Regions from separate parts of the Homo sapiens genome. Here regions 2 and 3 are each linked to region 1. Evidence: fine-mapped expression QTL. A gene starts in region 1. Each other region holds a variant in brackets. All regions are shown on one strand. Distances are between the middles of the regions.

Region 1 (2,839 bases):
TGTCCACGGTGCCCACTATCGTGGTTGGCACAGAATATGGAATATGAATGAATACCTGAATGGTGGCTTTCGGGTGTGTGTGTGTGTGTGTGTGTGTGTAATTTAGAAAGGCAATCTTGAAGGATAGTCAGGACTGGGTGCAGGAGGTTACTACAGTTGGGCATACTTTGTTTCCCATATGGTTGTGCCACTCGCTAGCTGGTGACTCTGGGCAAACACCTTCACCTCCTTGAGCCTCAGTGTCTTCAGCTGAAACCTGAGTTCAGATTTGCCAGACCTGGGCATAGGGACAGCAGGTCCAGCAGGAACACCAAGCCAGGACCACAGCCACTCCCAGGGAGCTCAGTCCCTGGAGCCCGAGAGGAACACTCTCCGGAGGCGCAGGCGCAGCCGCTCCTAGAGACTGGGCAACCCCCAGGTGGCAGGCGGGACCGGTCCGTGCAAACAGGGAACAGGTACCCGGAGGATGGACATTCGCTGGCAAAAACATAAACTGCCGCTCGGAGTCTTGGCACCACCCAATTTCCAGGGACGGTTAGACTCCCCCTAGCTCACTGGATGAGGTGTACACCAAAGAAGGGTGTTAGCCCCCTCGGGTCGGCCAGGGCACTCAAAGCATTCTGTTCCCGGGAGCGAGGCCGAGGTGCACCACCCGCCGCGTCCGCCTGGTGACGCCGCGAGCGCGCTCTGAGCGGCCAGCTGCGCCCCTCACGCTCCCGCGGCTCAGGCGCCCCACTGCTGTTCCGCGCGGGGCAACTGGGCCTCAGCCCGACTCAGTCTGTCGGCTAACAGCAGGATCCCAGAGGAGGCTGCCCAACCTGGGCACCCCCTGCCGCCACTCTCGAATAGGTGGGAGTAGGGAAGAAATACACTGAGCCAGTCAGCCCGTCGCTCCGCGAAAGGGGGCGCCCTCCCCTGAAGCTGGGGTTGGGGAACTGGGGTGTGCCCTGTCAGCCCCAGCTCCCTGTTCCGGGCTGGAGGGAGCAGGGCAGCAGACCAAGGCACTAGGCCTCTCGGCCGAGTCTGGTCCACTCCACCCGAGGGCAGCCTCTGGACGCCCACTCGCCCTGCAATCTGCAAGTTAGTGACGGGTGGGGGGCGAGCGGGCTCCTACCGCCTCCAACCGGGCTGTGCTCCCCAGCCTGCCACCTGCACCCCGGAGCAGGGAGGGGGCCCCCGGGAGCGCGCATGGAAAGGCGCGAGCGCGCGCCTTGTGCAGGCGGCCCTGTCCCGCGGGCGCAGGGGCGCTGGGCGGGCGCTCCGGGGAGGCGGGCGGGGGAGGGGGCGGGGGAGGGACGGGGGAAAGGAGGGAGGGGCGGGGGCTGGAGGCAGCAGCGCCCCCGCACTCCCCGCGTCTCGCACACTTGCACCGGTCGCTCGCGCGCAGCCCGGCGTCGCCCCACGCCGCGCTCGCTCCTCCCTCCCTCCTCCCGCTCCGTGGCTCCCGTGCTCCTGGCGAGGCTCAGGCGCGGAGCGCGCGGACGGGCGCACCGACAGACGGCCCCGGGGACGCCTCGGCTCGCGCCTCCCGGGCGGGCTATGTTGATTGCCCCGCCGGGGCCGGCCCGCGGGATCAGCACAGCCCGGCCCGCGGCCCCGGCGGCCAATCGGGACTATGAACCGGAAAGCGCGGCGCTGCCTGGGCCACCTCTTTCTCAGCCTGGGCATGGTCTACCTCCGGATCGGGTAAGGGCTGCCTGCGCCCTTTCCGCGCGTGTTTCGACAAAGTTGGCACGGCCCGGGGAGGGAGGTGTGCCGCCTGCGAGCCTCTGCCGGCCAACTTCCACAGCTTCTCTGAGAGGCCGGGTGGGTGCGGTGTGGGAGCGGTGGACGCACAAAGGCCCCCCGCAGGACACCCCAGGAGATATAGGCAGGGGGACTGGCCATCCTGAGGACGTCTGAGTCTGGAATCCCCCAGGACCAGAGACAGCCGGTAGGGACGCTCCAGCCTGAGGGACTCTGGGGGAGGGCTAGCTGCTGCAAAGGTTCAGCCCATCCCGGGGACCCTTCGGACCCGGGCATAGGGACAGCAGGTCTAGCAGGAACATCAAGCCAGGACCACAGCCAATCTCGGGGAGCTCAGTCCCCGGAGCCCGAGACGAACTCTCTCAGGAGGCGCGGCACAGCCGTTCCTAGAGACTGGGCAGTCCCCAGGTGGCTGGCGGGGCCGGTCCGTGCAAACAGGGAACAGGTACCCAGGAGGAAGGACATTCGCTGGCAAAAACATAAACCGCCGCTCGGAGCCTTGGCACCACCCAATTTCCAGGGGCCCTTAGACTCCCAGAGCCCCTTCCCGGGCCAAGGGGACAGCACGTCCCACCCCCAACAAACACACACAAAGGTGGGACGAGAGGCGGTCTGAGACACAGAGGGAGACAAGCGCTAGAGAGAGGCGGGACACCCCGCCCCCTGGAACTGGGCAGCAGAGGCGGCCGGGCGCGCGAGCAGCCCTCCGGCTTCACCTAGCGTTTCTGTGGAGGTGGGGCTCGGGGGCGCTCTGGCTGGAAGGTGGGAGGGGGCAGCTCGGGACGCGTCCTGGAGCTGCTTGTGCAAAGCCGGTCACCCTTTGTACTTAAGACAACGCGTGTGAGGCTCGGAGCGGTGTGGGGGCGGGGGGATCTGGGCATGGATAGAGGTTCTGGCGCTGAAGGGCCCGCTTGGTAGGTCTCACACACCCTGCCCCTCCAGCCCCCAGCAGTGAACCCATTACCATCCCTTTTGAGGAGGGGTGGACCGCAGGGGCTGCGGCGAGGGGATGTGCGTGGCAGACCCTTTGTGTTTTGTCACTACTACCCCCCTACCCCGTCACTTCCCCAGTCCACGTCTCTGGAGCGGGGAT
Region 2 (2,839 bases), 110 kb after region 1:
ACTTGAGCACAATGCGGGCACAGGGCACCCCTTCATTCATTCATAATCTCTACATGTGTGGGGTACAGCAGCCACAAAACGGGCACAAATCCCTGCCCTCACAGAGCTGGTGTTTTCCTGGGGAGGGTGGATAATAAACAGATGAACAAGTAAACCCGCGATGTGGCAGACGGGTGAGGGCCAGGAAGAAAACCAGGTCAGGTGATGGTGCCCCAGTGTGTGAGGCACCTGTGTAATTCTACACTTTCTCATAGCTGCTTGGACAAAAGCAAGAAGAAACGGATGGAACTAATATTAACAATATAGGTGATTTAACCTATTAGGTCCAAATATTATCATGTCAACATGCCATCAATGCAAAAAATGATTAATAAGTTATTTTGTCGTTTTCATGCCATGTCTGTGAAATCAGTGCATACTGGACATTATGCACACCTGGACTGTCACTGGGCACATTTCAGGTACTCAAGACTACACATTGCTTGTGGCTGCTGTATTGGACAGTGCATGTCTAGGGGACTGCGGAGCAGCTAGGGGTGTTTCTCATACAAGGGTGGTCGGAGAAGGCCTCTCGGAGGAAGTGATTTCTGATCAGGGCCCTGGAAACAAAGCAATAAACCAGGCAGCTGAATGGGGAAGACTTACCCCAGGCAGAAGAAACAGCAGGGGCAAAGGCCCTGAGGCAGGCTCAGGGCAGCAGCTGGAGCAGAGTGAGCAGGAGGGAGACTGGAGGAGACCTGGCTCAGTCAGGGCTGTGGCCTCTGTGAGAATTCCACTTTTCCTCTCAGCAGGCGGGAGCTATGCAGGGTGTTAGGCAGACAGCTTGGCCCCAGCCTGGCTCAGGTTTGAAGAAAGCACAGGGCATCACTGCACAAGCTTTAGCCCCAGATGGCCAGGTGTGAAGTTCACTGCACAGTGCCAGGCACGTGGTGGGCATCCTCTAAAAGCAAAAGTTAGCCCACGCTCCATGAGTCTGATTCTTCAGGTAACACACATCCCAGGTGCCAAGGCTCTGGGCTTCTCTACTTCTTGAAAAAAGGGGTTGGGGGGATCTCTTGGCCTCCCACCCTCCAAGCTTTTCTGACTTTGGCCTATTTCCACATTCCTGGAATTGCTGCAGGTGATAAATGGCTCTGCAGCCAGGCTGTCCTCAGGCATTCTGACATGCAGCCTCCACTTCCTCTGCCCTATGGTGGGAGGGGGCTGGGCAGGGCCTCTGACC[C/G]CACCAGGAAGCTGCAGCACCCTATCCTGGCCTCAGGGCTCCCCACCCCCACCCCATCGTGCAGGGACAACCCAGCCTCTGATTCCTGACTCCTGAGCATAGGGCCATGGGCAAGGCCTTCTCCCCTCTGGTCTGCATATTCTCTGCTCTGTACAGAACCCACGGCCTCATTCATCCAATAAATACTTAGTGAGTGCCTGTTCCTAGCCCATACTGCTGTAGCTATGGGGATTAAAGAATGGACGAGACAGACAGAGGCGCCTGCCCTGTGGAATGGGCCTTCCAGGTTGTAGAGGTCACTTAGCGACCCCCTAGTCCTCATTTCATGGGATACTCAGAACCCCTGGTCTCTCTGACCGCATGTCAGGGAAGACCCTCTTCTTGCCCACCCTGCAACCCAGAATGGCATCTTCTCAGGGCTTCCCCACTCTGGAGGGAAAACCCCATACGAGAGTTTTAGGCTAGAAGCAAGAAGGACTCACTGATCACCTGGGGAACAAACCCTGAAATAGGAAAGGAAAATGCATTTTAAAAATATGCATTACTAGAAAAAAAGAAAAGAAAAGGTGTACTGGCCAGATCCCATCTGTTAATAGCAGCTAACTCTTGGGGAAGGCTGCAGGATTCTGAGTCTTTGCTGGTCTTTTACTGTCCTATTTTCCAGGTTTTCTGCTATGCATATATATCTACTGTATACTCAAGGGTTTAACCAAGAAAGACAATAAAATGTGATAAAACAATCCCAGTTTTAAAAACTAGCACCCCTTGAACCTCCTGGCATAAGTGCGTCTGGCTGGCAGGACCAGAAACTCACGAGACGGTGCCACTGCTCAGACTGACCCTAACCCGGGAAGCTGGGAGATTGGGATTGGACGCCAGAGCAGGGCCTGTGGAAAGGGAGAAAAGGCAGGACAGCCCTGTGAGGGAGGCAAGGGCACAGCCAGCCGTGAAGGGTGAGGTCAGCGGAGGGCATGGGGGTCAGGAGCCCCAGGCCCTGCACTGGTCCTGTAGGCACTGGGAAGTCACTGAAGGCATGTGAGCAGGAGAGGGTGGTGGTCTAGAAGGAACAGCAAGGCCTCTCCCAAGTTCCTCTTCCATTCTCCTTTACGGCATTGCAGCCACACTTCTTCAGAAGTCCTCAGCCTTCTCTGAAAGGGGCTCTCGGGCCCAACAGCCCAGGTTCAAATCCTAAGTTTACACTTCCTAGCTGCGTGTGGTGTCCTCAGCCTGTGAAAATACCAACCTTGTGGTTGGCTGAGAGCCTTAGGTGAGTTAAAACATGAAAAGCACTGGAAACAGGGCCTGGCATACAGTAAGTGCTTAATAAATGCTGGTCACTGTTATTCCCTCCCCATAGCATCAGCAGGTTTTAATCTCTTGTATCACTTTGAAAGTTTCCCTAAGGCAAAGACCGGCTCAGACTGGGTCTGTCACCAGGTAGGTGCCGAGAATTATTTGTCAGACAAAGCAGTAAGCAGCCATCTTGCCTTCCCTCCAGAGACAGAGTCCAAGGCCCCCTCCTCTCTTTATCTGAGGTGCCTTGCACAGGCCAAGCCCATGGCTGCTGGGAACCAATACCTGGGGGTCCCGTGAAGATAGGGCCACGACTCCACTCAG
Region 3 (2,500 bases), 53 kb after region 1:
TAAGAGCAAAGGGTATTCATTAGTTCCTGGAACACAGTGGTCTTGGGTTGATGAATTCAGGTCTGGCTTGATCCAGGGTGCAAATGATATTCCCAGGACCCAGCTGCATGCACCCCTTCCTTGCCCCCTCTCTATTTCTCAGCTCTGCTTTCCTAGTTGATGCCATCCTCTGGCCCCATGTGGTTGCACGATGCCTGTCCACAGCTCTGGCCCCTGCATTCCCTCCTGTTCGTATCTGGTGGGAGATAACCAACAGCTCTTGTCTTCTGTGTGCGCAGAATCCCCAGGACTCACTTCAGTTTGGCCCTGACTGGTCTGAGTCACCCATCCTTAGCAATGACCAGTGGGGCTACTTCAGTTTCGGGGGCTAGGAAAGGCCTCATTGAGGACTCTCTGTTTGCAAAGCTCCAAGGTCTCACTGGGCTTGCTAGAAAACAAGGCACCAAGATAAGGACTGGGGTTGGGTGGGGCTGGGACAGGTGGCTCTGTGGAGGAGGTGGCACTGTGGAGGGCTGTAGAAGGCTGGGTTGGGCTGGGCCTGCGGAGATGAATGGGGGCACATTCCTGGAGTAGGGCAGCGCAGGATCGATCCTGGAGCGCCCAGTGCTTCAGAGTGCCTGCCATGGGTGCTGGGGGCAGGGATGACAGCAAGCAGTGTGTTCAACGCTGGGAAGCCTTTGGTTTTTAAAATTCGATGCCCCTCAGAATGCTATGGAGGGTGGCAGACACTTCCAGTCATAGGAGCACCATGTGGCATGGACCCTGTGGGAGCCAGAGGTTGCTGTCTGATGTCCCCTCCCAAGGATCCTTCCTTCTTCCAGGAAGTTCACCCCTAGGTCCCCTGGGCAGCCCGAGGGTCTGGGACAGGCCCAGAAGCACCAAATTCGATAGTATCTATTTGGCATTATGAATCAAGGAATTTTCTGGAGCCAAGTTTCTCCCCAGTCCCCTCCCAGGCCTGAGAACCCCACCCTGAGTAATTCCGGGCTCTGGGCAGCACCTGGTACATTGTTGGCACTTCCTGGGGGACCTGTCAAAAAGAGATTGATTTTTCTCCCTCCAGTGGTGCAGAAAATCCTTCCTGCTGCTCCAGACAGGTTTGGGGCATGGCTGGCAGGCAGAGGAGGCTCTGGATTGCAGCCCCACCCAACCTGGTGCAGGAGTCCCCTTTACA[G/A]ACCCCAGCTGCTGCTTACATACATTCCAGGACAGGGAGCTCATTACCTCACCAGCAACCCTCTTGAACCCTGGTGAGCTTTGTTGGGGAGGTTGCCCTCTGACTGAGCAGGAATCTACTGCTCTCTGACTCCTGCCAACAACTGGGGTCCCAGCTCTGTGCTCTGGGACACAGTCCTTCCTGCTCACTCTGTCCTGGGTCAGGCCTGCAGACCCTGTGGAGTAGTGACTAGGGATCCCAGAAACTACCTTCTCCAGGCTGAACAGCTCCAGCTCATTCACTGTGGGTCCTCCAGCCCTCTCCTCTAGACATGCTCTGTTTCTTTCCATCTGCTGAGGCATAGTCCAGTTCTGAAAACTGTATAGGAAGACCATCCCCTTCTTTATTGTGGGCATTAGGCCTTAGTTAATATGGCCCCAGAGTGTTGGCTTTTCAGTAGCCTCCTAGCTCATATTGAACTTGTGGTCAATTTCAATCTTTCTCAGTCTCTCCCATACTGTGATTTTGCAATCAATTTTTTAGATATCAAAAATTGTAGATGTTTAGCCCTCTTCTGGCTGGTTTCAGCCACTGTTTTATTCTGTGGAAGGGACTGAAGTCTGCCTGGCCCTGCACTCACATTATCCTCTGTAGATGCCTGAGCTGACTGGAGTCAGATTTCGGTAGCACCAAAAGACCCTTTTACTCCCCAGATTCCCCTCTTTCTGGCCACTCACCATGCCTGAAATGTCCTCATTATGTGCTCAACATGTGCTCTTCCTTAAGCCTGCTCCCTCTTTCAGTTCTCTGTGTCTGTTTCCCAATCTGAAATGCCTTTTCCCCATCTACCTGAGTTTGGCCAGTTCTAATTTATCCCTCCCGTTATCTGACTCCAGCTCAGCCCTGGCCTTCTTGGGGGAGGCTTCCTTGAGATGCACACAGGAGCATCTCACGGGTTCAAGTTTCCTTCTCTGTTGCTTTCACTCCTTCATAGCACTTACCAATGTATGATTAGATTCAGGGGAATTATTAATTCCACAGTTACTTCTGGTTTGGAATCACAAGCTCAGAGGTGGCAAGGACTGCAAACTCAGGGAAGGTGGGGACCGGAAGCTCAGAGAAAACCGGAGCAGCACCTCCTTGTGTCATAGTCTTCCTGGGAACTCCCCAGCAGGGGTGACGCCAAATACCACACAGTAGGTCCTCACTGTGAAACAGGTGCATGAGTGAAAGCCTACGTGGACAGACATGCCCTAGGTCCTGTTCCCCTTGCAAACACCGGGCAGCACCGCTTGCACACAAGGCTCTTCATCAGAGGCGGGGGATTTCAAGGTGAATGACCTGGCC

Evidence for each region. PIP is the estimated chance that this variant, and not a neighbour inherited with it, causes the effect.
Region 2: its variant is fine-mapped to the expression of WNT7A in whole blood (TOPMed, PIP above 0.99).
Region 3: its variant is fine-mapped to the expression of WNT7A in esophagus mucosa (GTEx, PIP above 0.99).

The regions. Positions count from the first base shown.
Region 1 is chr3:13,878,593-13,881,431 of GRCh38, reverse strand. WNT7A (Wnt family member 7A) reads left to right here and starts at 1,361. Exons shown (of 4, transcript NM_004625.4): 1 at 1,361-1,686. The coding sequence starts at 1,616. RefSeq lists enhancers at 1,383-1,884, 2,387-2,839.
Region 2 is chr3:13,768,922-13,771,760 of GRCh38, reverse strand. No RefSeq gene overlaps it. Among named protein-coding and RNA genes, the nearest start is that of WNT7A, 110 kb to the left of the region's middle. The variant C/G (reference allele first, on the strand shown) is at 1,223.
Region 3 is chr3:13,825,954-13,828,453 of GRCh38, reverse strand. All of the region lies in intron 3 of WNT7A (Wnt family member 7A), which reads left to right. Among named protein-coding and RNA genes, the nearest start is that of WNT7A, 53 kb to the left of the region's middle. The variant G/A (reference allele first, on the strand shown) is at 1,175.